Linked DNA regions of Homo sapiens. The protein of the gene in region 1 purifies or fractionates together with the protein of each later gene. This does not show direct contact. Each region holds a gene or a part of one and is shown on either strand. Other genes may lie near its edges. The genes, in order: FGD6, ZBTB21, COL4A4 and KIF13B.

Region 1 (3,570 bases):
CCTGGGTGACAGAGCGAGACCCTTTCTCAAAAAAAAAAAAAAAAAAAAAAAACACAACAACAATAAAGGAAAAGAAAAGAAAAAGTCACAATGCTAAGTGATTGAGAGTTTACCTGCACTCTCTAAATATTGGTATCTGGTGGATGCTTCAGGTACCCCCAAGAAATTTGCTTGTTCTGACTGCTAGCTGCGAAGCATTTGACAAACCCTAGACACAGGTATTTGTCTTCTCCTGTCATCCTGTATGTCAGGCAGCAGTAGCCATTGCATTTCAGAGGAGTAGCACACCCCAGGATGACTCTTGTGGTCCTCTGATTTTGGGAAGTCAGACATTTGGTTTGAGTCCTTGACATTCATGGACGTAAGCAAAATTATAAAGGTTGTCAGAAACACCTAGGTTCAAATCACAGCTCCACTGCTTACTACTCGTGTAACCTTAGATGTGTTATTGAACCTCTCTGAGCCTCCATTTTTCTAATCTGGAAGATCAAGATAATATCCACCCCACAAAGTTATCATAGAACTTAAAAGAGAAAATAAATATAAAACGAAACATGAGCACTGTGACTGATGCAGAGTAATAAATGATTCTGGCCACTACTCCACCTGCTCCTAAGATCCTAGTTGATTTCAGTGGTATGGACAATTGGAAACAGACTGCCTGGTTTCAAATCCTGGCTCTGCTAGTATAGCTGAGTGGCTTTTCTCAGCATAGAATGGGTATAATAACGACAACTTGCCTTACAGGTTGCTGTGAAGATGAAACGAAGTACTACACATAAAGTCTTTATGATGGTGCCTGGCATACAGTAAGTGTTACAAAAGCGTTTGCTTCTATTTTTATTAGATCAAAGGTTAGGTCTGAGAAGACAGTGTCTCATTATTTAGATTGTGCAGTGGAGCATGCTATGACTATTGGCATCTCTCCCTTCACCAGTCAAACCTTCCCAAATACCCACTTCCGCCACTCAGTCAGTAACTCAGTAATGTATTTTTATGAGTCATAGAGTTTCAGGTTTCCTCAGCACTTGAATTACATTATGGCAACATATTAAGTCACTGCAGGTTCCGGTCTGGGGCAAGGTGGTATCATAAATAATAATGGATTTCTTTTCCCGCCCTCCCTCCATTCTTTCTGAGATGGAGTCTTGCTCTATCACCCAGGCTGGAGTGCAGTGGAGTGATCTCGGTTCACTGCAACCTCCACCACCCAGGTTCAAGTGATTCTCCTGCCTCAGCCTCCCAAGTAGCTGGGATCATAGGCACATGCCACCATGTCTGGCTAATTTTTTTGTATTTTTAGTAGAGATGGGGTTTCACCATGTTGGCCAGGCTGGTCTCAAACTCCTGACCTCAGGTGATCCACCCGCCTTGGCCTCCCAAAGTGCTTGATTACAGGCGTAAGCTACTGCACCCAGCCCATAACAATGGACTTAAAAGCAAAAGACTTCGATTTGCATCCTGGCTGTGTCAAATATGTATCCGTAAGACAGCAACTCCATTTTTCTGTAATTTAGTTTCCTAATTTTTAGAAGGAGATTACACCTACCTCATAGGTTTGTTAGAACCTTTAAGTGACACCTACAAATTTCCTAATAACCTATAAAGCACTAGTTGTTCTTAAAAACAATTTGAAATAGCCACTTAAAAAATGATCAGCAAAGCACTTTCACCATTGTTATTCTATTCAGAAGAACATTTTAATCTCTGTGCTTCTAGCATACTGTTGCCTCTGCTCTCAGCCACTTCCTTGCATGGTAAATCAAGAGTAAAACTGCACGGTATTGGGAAAGAAGAAAAAGAAGAACAAAAAGTCAGTAGCTAACCTAAGTGCAAAAAGTGTTGGCAATATCTTTCCCTGTTATACTCACAAAAATCTATGTTTATGTATTCTTAAAAATAGGCCGGCACAGTGACTCACACCTGTAATCTCAGCACTTTGGGAAGCTAAGGTGGGAAGATTGCATGAGCTCAGGAGTTCAAGATCAGCCTGGGGAACATATGGAGACCCCATCTCTAAAAAAAAAATTTTTTTTTTTGAGACAGAATCTCTCTCTGTCACCTAGGCTGGAGTGCAGTGGTGGGATCTTCGCTCACTGCAACCTCCGCCTCCTGGGTTCAAGCAATTCTCCTGCCTCAGCCTCCTGAGTAGCTGGGACTACAGGTGCCTGCCACCATACTTGGCTAATTTTTGTATTGTTAGTAGAGATGGGGTTTAATCATGTTCATGTTAGCTAGGCTGGTCTCAAACTCCTGACCTCAAGTGATCTGCCCAGCTCAGCCTCCCGAAGTCCTGGTATTACAGGGGTGAGCTACCACACCTGGCATACAAAAAAATATTTTTAAAGTTAGCCGGGTATGGTAGTGCATGCCTGTGGTCCCAGCTACTCAAGAGGCTGAGGTGGGAGAACTGCTTGGGCCATGGAGGTGGAGGCTGCAGTGAGCCGTGATTGTGCCACTGCATTCCAGCCTGGGTGACAGAGTGAGATGCTGTCTCAAAAAAAACCAAAAACCAAAATTTTCCTGACATTCCCTAGCAAGCAGACTCAGAATGAGAAAAAAAAAAAAAAAAAGAAGAAGAAAAAATTTACCTGGCTGAGAGAATGAAGGAACGTTCTACACTTTCAATCTTTAATTCATTCTGATAGGCTTCTTGGGTAGGTTTTCTGACCTGGAAGAAAGCACAACAATTTGAGCCGACTCATCCTACTGAAAACCATATCAATGAGCTGAAGTTGTCCAATGGCCCTGGCTGCTTACATCCACAACCAATCTTCCTATCCAGCTTTCTCTACTGCTGTTCTCCTTCATCTACTCTATGCTTCAGATGAATTGAAAAGCCCACACACCAGCCCACCTTTCCCACCTCCAGGACTTTGCTCACAGTATGCCCTCCACCTGGAATGCCTTTCCCTTACATCTCAGCATGGCCAAATGTGACCTATACTTTAAGGTCCACTGGCTCTTCCTCCTCTTTCTCCTTCTTTCCTAGCTGCTCTCAAAAGCTACAGGCCAGTCCCCACCATGACCATCAAACACTGCAAGTTCTTTATTTTCTGAATTCCCAAAACTGTAATTGTGCCTTTATAGTGATATTTATTACTGTCTACTTTATAGGTATTTACGTGTAGTGTACTGTCTTCCCAACTAGTTGCTAAGTCCCTGGGGGAGGAAAGACAATAAGAATCATGCTTCAACTTATCTTCATATCTTCCACCAAACCCATTACTGTTTTGTTTATAGTAGTTCTCAATAAATATCCTATGAATACATTAATGCATGAGTGAACAAATGACTACATGAATGAATAATCAAATGCATAAACAGGCAGGGCGCAGTGGCTCACGCCTGTAATCTCAGCACTTTGGGATGCGACGGTGGGTGGATCACTTGAGGTCAGGACTTTGAGACCAGCCTGGCCGACATAGTGAAACCCCGTCTCTGTGAAAAATACAAAAATTAGCTGAGCCTGTAGTCCCATCTACTCAAGAGGCTGAGTCAGGAGAATCTCTCAAACTCGGGAGGCAGAGGTTGCAGTGAGCTGAGATCGCACCACTGCACTCTAGCCTG
Region 2 (3,570 bases), on another chromosome or scaffold:
TGCAGTGAGGTGTTTCTCCTCTGCTCTATCTGGAAGTAAATGGTAATTTAGAATTTTACATCAGCTGTGCTAATTCTTGAGTGTCTGGGATCTATGTAAATATATGTCCCGACCTTATTTGTTACACTAATGTTAAAATCAAAATTAGTGCCATATGGTTAGCTTTGTTTTTTGTCCTAACTACACTCAGATTTTCAATTTGTGACAGCATAAATCAGAGGAAATGAAATATGTGCAGTCCTTCAAATGCTGGTCTGAATTTAGACTGTGGTGCAGTGTACATGTAACATGGTACAAGTTTTTATAACAATGTCTATCACTACTGAAGCCCTTATAAACTGACTGTAGGGGACTTCCATAAATTGTTTTCATTTCCCAGGTCTTCCTTAGAGTTTAACTATCATTTATTATATTGACTGAGAGCAAGTTTTTGTTAGTTTATAAAAATCTAAGTGTTACTATTGCTGATTTAAATTTCTCACAATTTTCATACAAAAAGAAGTTTTACATGACCACAAAATACCAAATATTTATTTTTATCAAGTGTCAGGATAACTTATTAAAGTTGAGATTTATCTTTTATTGCTAAAGTAGTCTAAGATATAAATCAATACTGCAAACTACTCCACTTCTTCCTATTTTGGACTTAAGAACATGGTTAAGATTTAACTAGAACTCAAGTGTCTAAAATAATTAAAAGAAGGAATACTTCGACAGTATTCCACTAATCAATAAAAAACCAAAAACCTCAATTAAATGATTATACTGACACCATGGAATGAGGAACCATGCACACAATCAAGACTAATCCAATTTCAACATTAATGAAATCAAACCATCTTGTTCTTGTAAGGTCCAGAACCACAATATTTTAAAAGCTGTATTTCTAAAGTTAAGGACATTACTAAGTAATTATCAATTTGCCTCCAACTTAATTTCAAGCGTAACAATCTCCAACCTTTATTATTCTTGTTTAAAAAATATTTTGTTTCTTATGACACATTTCACAATTCAGGTTGAAATCTGGGGACTGCCTCCCATAGGTAAAAAGTGTTGGTCTTTCAATTGTGTGTTTGTTCGTGACTCCAAAGACTAAATGCAGTCTTGAATGTCCTGTGGCAAAGTTTACACATAAACTGTCTTTTAAATGTGATTGCTGAAAGGGGTGGGGCATGGTAAAAAAGGGTGTCTGATTCTTGGGGCACAAACAGTTTTTCTGTGGCTGGAGTTGGGTTTTCGGACAGGCCTGTGGGGCTGTCAGGCTCCAGAGGCTGGATCTTGGGCAGTGGTGGTGGCGGTGGCAGAGGTGGTGGAGAGGGAGAGTTTGTGGGAACAGGGCACACCTCAGATTCCTTATGTGCCGATTCCTCTGAAGCCTGAGACATGTGCGATTGGAAGTGACTCCAGAGTCGAAAATTAGTGCGAAAAGCTTTGTTGCACACGTGACAAATAAATGGTTTCACAGAGCACAGAAGCTCCTGGTGACGCTCCAGCTGCTTATGCACCGTGAACATCTTCCCACACTTCTCGCAGGGCCACAGGCTGGCTTCTTTGCTAGGACCCGCTTCTTTGGGGGCTGTGCTGGCCTCGGGTGCCTCTTCTTCAGCCTCCTCCACAGGCTCCTCTTTGACTTGGATTTTCAGTTGCTTGGAAAGACTAAGGTCTTCGGGAAGACAAGAGGAATCTTCCGAGTCGAAGTTAACTTGTTCTGAAGAATCACTGAACACGTTGTCGTCTTTTGTGGTGACGATGTGGTTTACTTTGTTGGGCTCAGGCTGGGATTGGGGCCTTGAAGAACCAGTCACATCACCATTGTGGTCCAAAACGGGCAAAGAAAAGTTTTCGGTGGGTGCCATGTTGTTCTGATTATGGACTTCAACCTGGTGCCGCCAGATGCTGAAAGAGGACTTGAAGGTGCGCATGCACTCGAGGCAGGTCAGCTTCTTATACTCACACTTGCTCTCGTGTTCTTGCTTCAGCTCGGGCGAGAAAAACCTGAGGCTGCAGTAAGGGCAGACGGCCGCGTTCCGGCACAGCCGCTCGTGGCTTCCTTGCTCTAGGAGAGAAGAGAGCTTAGCATTACAGAGGCGGCACTGGTAAACCTCCTTGTTTTCTACTGGACTTGCAAGAGGAGCATGCTCTTTTGGTTTAGCAACTTTATTTACTCCAAGGGGTTTTTCTCCTGGATGCATTTTTATATGCTGCTTAAATTGAGAGAGAAAGCGGTACGCTTTTCCGCAGTAAGTACAAATGTAAGCTCCTTTGGCTCGAGATCTCAAGTTCCTCTTGATGACTTGCTGTGCTTGGGAGCTACTCTGTCCCTGAAAACCAGGCTTGCCGCGCCTTAACTTAATGATCAGGGCCTTCTTAATTTCTCTCTCTCTCACTATGTCAATCAGCTTTCTTTGGAATTTTTCATCCAAAACAGCATGTGAACTAGAGGCTGGTGATGGGTTCTTCACTATGCCGTGTTGGGTCTGACAGTGTGTCCACACTTTGAAGTTGGTGTGAAACCTCTTGTGACAGATGTCACAAGCGTAGGGCTTTTCTGGGTTATGGTACATGTTAACATGACGGTGAAGACCTGCTGTTGATCTAAAGATCTTAAGGCAATGTTTGCATTTAAATTTTTTGTTTGGTCTCGTCCCCTCCAACTCACCAAATTCGTCTTTATTCAAATCAGAATCTGGAAAATCTGCATCAAGGAGAGTAGGGCTTGAGCCTTCCTCAAAATTATCTTCTGACACAGGAGACCCGTGCTCATTCACCTTTAACTTCTTAAACGGCAATCTTCGGTCCGCTTGGAACCTCCTTTTTGCTGGGAGTCTGCTCATGTCTTTTTGGTCATCTTCTGTTTTCAGAGACAGGTCTCTTGTGACCGACGAAGATGAGGCAGCTGCTGTTGTTGCCGCATCTCCCACAGTGACGCGGATGATGTCCGAGGGGTCCGACAGCGGGCTGCTGGGCTCAGTCTTTATGCGCACCTCAGTCACAGGGGAAGCTCCCTCCCTGTCTGTTGACTGAGAAGCACTAAAGGACCTGAGGCGATGCGGTTGTAGCACTTGAGGCCTGTCATCTAGGGCTGTTTTTTCACTACAATCTTTTAAAGATGACTTCTGAGATAAAGCACACAACACATTCCCTGGTGCATCACTGGACACCGAAGATGATCCCTGGGAAGATTTCAAATCTATGGAAGGTGAATAGACAGGAACCTGGCTATCCATCGACAATGACCGTCTGAGGAGACTCTTAACAAGTGGGCCACTCCTGTCAATGCTTTGGTTTCCAGAACCAGATCCACTGGATGGGATCACTAAGCCTAACTTTGAATAGTACAACAAGTTTCTATCTTCACCTTGACCATTTCCTTTGTTAGTTTCTTTTAATAGATAGGGAGTCTCTGATGAGCTACAAACAGACAAAACAGGTGGCCGTGGTCTCTTCAAAGCCAGCTCTAGAGCTTTTCCTTTTGGAAGCTGACCACTCACACCTGGTTTATCATCCATAGCTTCTCTGTCTTGCAGAGGCTTTGAAGGCAACACTGCATTTCTTTTCACCAAACTGATT
Region 3 (3,570 bases), on another chromosome or scaffold:
AGGAAATAAATAATTTTGTGAAAGACATCAATTATCAAAACTGACATAAGAAACAATAGAAAATTTAAATGGCCCTATAGCAATTAAATTTATAATTAATGAATTTTGTAAGTAAAAACCTTCCCCAAAGAAAACTTCAGGGCTAGGTGGCTTTACTAGTGAATTCTATCAAACATTTAATGAAAAAATAATACCAGTTTTTTTATATCCTCTTTCTGAATATAGAAAAAAAGAGAGTGCTGGCCAACTTATTTTATGAGGCTAGCATTATTCAGATACCAAAACTGACAAAGATATTACAGGAAAACTACAGAACAATATATCTTGTGAATATAAACATGACTCTCCTTAACATAATATTAACAAATAAAATCCATATATATGTAAATGCAAATGACCTAGAATAGCCTAAGCAATTTTTATAAAAAGCAACAAAGTTGAAGGACTTACACTAGTCTTGCTAAAAAACTAGTCATAAGAATGATGGTAAATGAATAGACATGTAGATAAATGGAACCAAAAGACTCAAACATGATGATCAATTGATTTTTCACAAAGGTGCCATGGCAATCATGGCAATTTAGTGGGGGAAAAAGTCTTTTCAACAACTGGTGCCACAACAAGTGGATATTCACATGGAAAAAAAATTTAATGAATCCTTATCTCATACCATACCCAGAAATTAACTTAAAAGAGATCATTGAGGTAAAAGTAACAATACTACACAAGAAGAAAACATAGGAGAAAATTTCTGCAATTTTGGCATAGGTATAGAGTTCTCAGGTAACAAGAAAAGCACAAATCACAAAAGAAAAAAATTATAAATTATATTCCATCAAAATAAAAACTTTTGCTTCTTAAAAATAATAAGAAAATGAAAAGACAATTCTCAGAATGGGAGAAAATACTCACAATACTTGTATCTAACATTGATCTTGTATCCACAATATATAAATAACTCTTACTATTCAACAATAAGAAGATAAAAAGCCAAATTTTAAGCGGAAAAAAGATTTGAATAGGCACTTCACAAAAGAAGCTACATGAATGTTCAATAAGTACATTAAAAGATATTCAACATCGTTAGTTATTGGAGAAATGCAAACCACTCTGGGATACTTCTGTATAAACATTAGGATGGCTAAAATTAAAAAATTAACAGCAAAATAAATATATGGAGCAACTGGAACTCCTATGCATGGTATTCTACCTTGCATTGAGAAGGTAGAATAAAACCACTTTGGAAAACTATTTCTTTTATAATTAAATGTACATCTACCATATGACCTAACCATTTCATTCCTAGGTATTTACTTAAGAGAAATGAAAATGCATGCCCACAAAAAGACTTGTAGAAAAATATTCATAGTAGCTTGATTTGTAGTAGCCCCAAACTGGAAACAATCCAAATTCCCAAAAATAGGTAAATGGACTTTTTTTCAAAGTGTGATCTCCACACAATGGACTACTACTCAGCAATAGAAAATAACAAACTCCTAATCTACACAACATGGATGAATCTGAATATTGCTATGCAGAGTCAGAGAAGCCAGATGTAAGATAGTATACACGGTATAATTCCGTCAACACAAAATTCTAGAAAATGCCAACTAAAATGAAGTCTACAGTGACAGAAAGCAGATCAGTAGTGGTCTGAGGATGGGGTTTGGAAAGAGGGATGGATAGCAAAGAGGCAGAAAGAAACTTCTGGGAGTGATAGAAAAATACTGCAGCTTGATGGGCAGTGGTGGTTTCATAGGGTGGATGCATCGGCAAAACTTTTTTAATTCCATGCTTTAAGTGGATGCAATTTATGGAACATAGATTATACCTCAAGAAATATACTTTTTAGATTCCCTAATGATATGGTTTGACTTTGTGTCCCCACCTAAATCTCATCTTGAATTGTAATCACATAATCCCCATATGTCATGGGAGGGACCCAGTGGGAGGTAATTGAATCATGGGGGTGGTTTCCCACATGCTATTCTCATGATACTGAGTGAGTTCTCATGAGATCTGATGGTTTTACAAGGGGCTTCCCCCTTCGCTCAGCACTCATTCTCTCTCCTGCTGCCCTGTGAAGAGGTGCCTTCCACCATGATTGTAAGTTTCCTGAGGCCTCCCCAGCCATGCAGAATTGTGAGTCAATTAAGCCTCTTTTCTTTATAAATTACCCAGTCTCAGGTGATTCTTCATGGCAGTATGAGAACAGACTAATACACTTAACAAATAATCTCTGAACATTCCCTCAAAGGCTTTGTAATATAGAACAACAAATCACCACATATTATTTCTGTGCTATATAATAAAGTTCTGGACAAAGGTGTTCACAGGGACCATGCTCTTTAATCCTTGACCTAGATCTTAAAGCACAGGTAGTTGTAGAAGACAGACCAAGAAGGAGGTCCCTGTGGGCAGAGGCAATAGTAAATACGAAGGTGTGAGGTGAGGAAGTCTGTATAGTGAACCAGAGAAATCATAAAAAGCTTGGGATGACACAAGAGATAAAACAAAAATGTTGACTTGAGACCACACTATTCTATTCCAAGAAATGTGAAATCAGTTGTGAAGTTAAAGGGGAACTTCTGGAAGCTTTTAAACAAACAAGTGGCACGATGTGTGTGATGAGTATTACTGACATTTGCCACCTGTTTCCCACTCTTTCCAGGCATGTGGTAGATTTCATTTCCCTGCCCCTTACAGAATAAAGCATGATCACGTGATCCACTTAGCCAGTGAAATGTGAGTAGAAGTAGCCTGTGTCACATCTAGGAGGAAGGTTGAAGGGTAGTTTTACTTTAGCACATTCTCTTCCCCTTCTGAGGTGATTAGAGAAGATGTTGAGAGGGAATTTCCAGGAGGTCCCTGAGTGGCTACAATAAACAGAGGACCCCCACCCCATTCCCACCTCCCCATGTCCCGTGATGAATATGTAGTAGAAATGATAAGAAAACTTCCATAATGATAAGCCTCTGGACTGGGGGGATTGTTTGTAACTGCCTCTAAAGTCACCTGTCCTTGCTAGCATAATTTGCAATTTTAATTGGTAACTCTGATAATTACATAGAAGATGAGTTTCAGAGTAGAAAGCCTGCAGGACAGAAAACTAGCTAGATAGCTACCATAATCCACAGATGATAGTGCAAGGCAGGAGCCACGAACTTAGAGAAGCAGAAGAGGAGTCCAGAGATGCAATGGCAAGAAATGATATGAGTTGGTAATCACTCAGATTCTAAAAGCACCCAAGAGCCTAATTGTTTCAGAGGTATGGAAAAGAGAAAGTTCTTAAAAGGAAAAGGATGGCTAAGAGGGGAGATGAAATGAAACAAGATTAATGAAGCAGCTGTGGGCAGCATAAGAGGTGTATCTTGTATCTCATTAAAAGTAGAGGCTCGTCCCTCTACAATGAAGGCTAGAGGTAGATCATGAACTTAGGAAGAAACCAGACTAAGTGTGAATGCTGGGTGAATTTGACAAGTCATTCAACTTCATTTGTGCTTTCATTAATTCATTCAGGAAACAGTAACAGCCTCACTCATTCATTCAACATCAGTAAAGAACACAAAA
Region 4 (3,570 bases), on another chromosome or scaffold:
TAAGTCTTGATCTTCCATCAAAGGAGCTCCCAGTCTTGTTGATAATAAGATGCACATGTGAGTTCATTGGAAGAATATATGTACCTAGTGCACTGATGGCAGCCAATCATGAATTAAAGAAATGGGGGTGGAATTTGAGAACAGCACAGAAGACAGCACAAGCAGGCCCCTTGGCTCCAAGTTCCACCGGGGTGACGTGGAGGAATCCAGATGGGTGCTGCACATACAGTGGGTTTGTGTCGGCATCTGAGGATCACTGAACTTGGGGAATCCGCTGCAAAGTCTCTGATTTAGATGACTAGGTGAATGCTGGTGTCATTAACTGAATCAGAAGCACAGGAGAAGCAGGTTTTAGGGTGGAGGTGTGGGAAATGATGAGTTCTAGTCTCAGTCAACAGTGTGTCGTCAGTGCTTATGTGCTGTGTACCCTGCCTGCAACTATGAATAAGATGCAGTGTGTGCCTGGAAGCAACTCAGCACAATTGAGTTTTAGGTGTCTGAAGTGCAGCCAGGTGGATGGATCCAGAAGGCCATTGTGAATATGAGTCTGAAACGAAGGGACTGGACGTAGGTGTAGATTTCGGAGTCATTACTGTAGGTAGAAGATAGAGCACCTCAGGTGTGTCTGTGACAGAGGCGGTCACAGAGGCCAAGAAGAGCAACCTCAGGAGAATCAGGTGAAAGCAATGTTGTGGATGCCTAGGGAGGAAAAATGTGTCAAAAGAGTGAAAGGTGAAAGCAATCACATGTCACAGGAATGGCCGCGTGATTAACACAGAATTGTGTTCAGTGGATTTGGCATTATGATGGTCAGTGTTCATTTTCAGGATAATTTCACTGAAACGAATTAATTGGTATTGGGCATTGGCAGTGGGCTGAGGAGTGAGTGGGCGTGCCAGTATGGAGGCAGCGAGTCTCAAGAACATTCCTCTGAGAAACTCCAGGTAGAAGGGGAGGGTTCAGAGTGGTACCTGGAGGGGTAGGTACCTTTTTTTAAAAAAAAAAGTTTTGGGGAGATATTTGAACCTTGTATAGATAGAGCCAATAGATAGAAGTTTTTGAAATATGGGAGGAAGAGAATAATTATATAATGGGAAAGCCCAGGAATTTCAAGCTTAATTTTCTTGATGGGGTAGAATGTGAGGTTATTGAAAGTAGGAGGAATTGGGTGAGCTGGGGTCTTCTGAGTAGTGAATGTGTAGGAATGTGGTTGAAGGACCCTAACTGTATTTTCTATCTATTGAGGGTACTGGGGTCATCCATTCCGAGTTTTTTCTTCTTGGTTTTTAGATATAAGTCACATCCCCAAAGTGTACCATTCACTGGGTTTTAGTTTACTCACAGACTTGTGCAGCCATTATTAGTATACAATTCCAGAACATTTTCATCACCCCACAGAGGAACCTTGTAACTGTTAGCAGTCAGTCTCCATTTCCCACTTCCCAGCCCCTGGCAACCACTAATCTACTTCCTGACTCTATGGATTTGCTTATTCTGGACATTTAATACATGGAATCCTATATTATGTGGACTTTTGTATCTCACTTCTTTCACTTGGTATAATGTATTCAGGGCTCATCCATGTTTTGTCATGAATCAATACTTCATTCTTTTTATAGCTGAACAACATTCTGTTACACAGATATGCTGTGTTTTGTATTCATTCATCAATTGATGGGCATTTGGCTTGTTTCCAATTTTTGGCTATTATGAATGATGCTCCTTTGAACATTTATGTACAGGCTTTTGTGTAGACATGTGTTTTCATTTTTCTCAGATACGCATATGTATAGGAGTGGAATTTCTGAGTCATATAGTAACTAACTTTTGAGGAACTGTTTTCCAAAGCATATGAACCATTTTACATTCCCATAGAAATGCATGAAGGTTCCACTTTCTCCACATCCTCACCAACACTTGTTCTTGTCTCTCTCCATGAGTATTGCTATCCTAGTGGGTATGAGGTGGTATCTGATTGTGGTTTAGATTTGCCTTTCTCTGGTAGATAATGTTGAGCGTCTTTTCATGTGCATATTGGCCGTTTGTATAGCTTGAGAGAGATCTCTATTCACATCTTCCCCTTATTTCAAAAACTATATCTTTTTATTACTGAGTTGTAAGACTTCTTCATACATTCTGTATACCATTCTGTTATCAAATAGATGATTTGCAAATATTTTGATTTTATGGGTTTCTTTTTCACTCCCTTGTGTCCTTTGATGCATGAAAGTTTTAAATTTTGATGAAGTCCAGTTTATTTTTAGTTGCTTGTGATTTTGCTGTGATTTCTGAGAAACCATTATCTAACATCATGTGGATTTTCATTTGTTTTCTTCTAAGAGTTTGATAGGTTTAGCTCTTACATTTAGATCTTTGATCCAGTTGGAGTTTTGAATGTGGTATGAGGTAGGGATCCAACTTCATTCTTTGGCATGTGGATATCCAGTTGTTCTAGAACCATTTGATGAAAAGACTGTTCTTTCTCCATTAGATTGTCTTGGTACCCTTGTCAAAATCAATTGACCATAACTGTGACAGTATGTTTCTGGACTCCCAATTCCATTCCATCAATGTATATATGTCTTTCCTTATGTAAGTACCACACTGTCTTGATTACTCTACCTTTGTATTAAGTTTCGAAACTGGGAGTCAAGTCCTCTGACTTTGTTTTTCTTTTTCAAGATTGTTTTGGCTATTCTAGTTCTGCCTTAAGCGGGTTTTTTTTTTTTTTTTTTTTTTTTTTTGAGACAGTCTCACTCTTCTCACCCAGGCTGGAGTGTAATGTCGTAATCTTGGCTCACTGCAGCCTCTGCCTCCCAGATTCAAGCAGTTCTCCTTTCTCAGCCTCCTGAGTTTCTGGGATTACAGGTGCCTGCCACCCTGCCTGGCTAATTTTTGTATTTTTGGTAGAGATAGGGTTTCACCATGTTGGCCAGGTGCCTTATGAGTTTTTTAAATACCTGTTTCTTAGTCTTCTGAGGTTGATTGGTTTCTTTTTTAAACTGTTTATTTGTTTAGAGATGGAGTCTCATTCTGTTGCCCAGGCTGAAGTGCAGTGGTGTGATCATAGCTCACTATGACCTTGACCTCCTGGGCTCAAGATGTCTTCCCACCTCAGCCTCCCAAAGTGCTAGGATTACAGGCATGAGCCACTGCACCCAGCTGATTCATTTCTTGAGTATGAACATTTTATGTTTTTGGTCACATAGGATTATTTTATTTGTTTTCAGATATGGGGTCTTGCTCTGTTGCCCAGGCTGGAGTGTAGTAGCACAATCATAGCTCATCACAGCCTGTAACTCATGGGCTCAAATGATCCTTCCATCTCAGCCTCCTGAGAAGCTGGGCTACAGGTGCATGCCACTACACCTGGCTAATTATTTTTTTTAAATTTGTTTTAGGGACAGGTTCTTGCTGTGTTGCTCAGGCTAGTCTTGAACTCCTGGCCTCAAGTGATCCCCCTGCTTCAGACTCCCAAGTAGCTGGGGGATTATTTTAATTATTTTCACACTATCACATCTCCTCTCCTAACCTGGCATCTCATTCTTGTGTTAGCCATGTTAGAGCTCA

Evidence for each region.
Region 2: the proteins of FGD6 (region 1) and ZBTB21 purify together in Homo sapiens (affinity purification with mass spectrometry, with the first as the bait; one large-scale study listed by BioGRID). This does not show direct contact.
Region 3: the proteins of FGD6 (region 1) and COL4A4 purify together in Homo sapiens (affinity purification with mass spectrometry; one large-scale study listed by BioGRID and IntAct). This does not show direct contact.
Region 4: the proteins of FGD6 (region 1) and KIF13B purify together in Homo sapiens (affinity purification with mass spectrometry, with the first as the bait; one large-scale study listed by BioGRID). This does not show direct contact.

Annotation. Positions count from the first base shown.
Region 1 is NC_000012.12:95,102,416-95,105,985, forward strand, and holds part of FGD6 (FYVE, RhoGEF and PH domain-containing protein 6), read right to left. Parts: intron 2,672-3,570; coding exon 2,592-2,671; intron 1-2,591. UniProt on the Homo sapiens protein: May activate CDC42, a member of the Ras-like family of Rho- and Rac proteins, by exchanging bound GDP for free GTP. May play a role in regulating the actin cytoskeleton and cell shape.
Region 2 is NC_000021.9:41,989,834-41,993,403, forward strand, and holds part of ZBTB21 (zinc finger and BTB domain-containing protein 21), read right to left. Parts: coding exon 1,062-3,570; 3' UTR 1-1,061. UniProt on the Homo sapiens protein: Acts as a transcription repressor.
Region 3 is NC_000002.12:227,157,652-227,161,221, forward strand, and holds part of COL4A4 (collagen alpha-4(IV) chain precursor), read right to left. Parts: intron 1-3,570. UniProt on the Homo sapiens protein: Type IV collagen is the major structural component of glomerular basement membranes (GBM), forming a 'chicken-wire' meshwork together with laminins, proteoglycans and entactin/nidogen.
Region 4 is NC_000008.11:29,253,003-29,256,572, reverse strand, and holds part of KIF13B (kinesin-like protein KIF13B), read left to right. Parts: intron 1-3,570. UniProt on the Homo sapiens protein: Involved in reorganization of the cortical cytoskeleton. Regulates axon formation by promoting the formation of extra axons. May be functionally important for the intracellular trafficking of MAGUKs and associated protein complexes.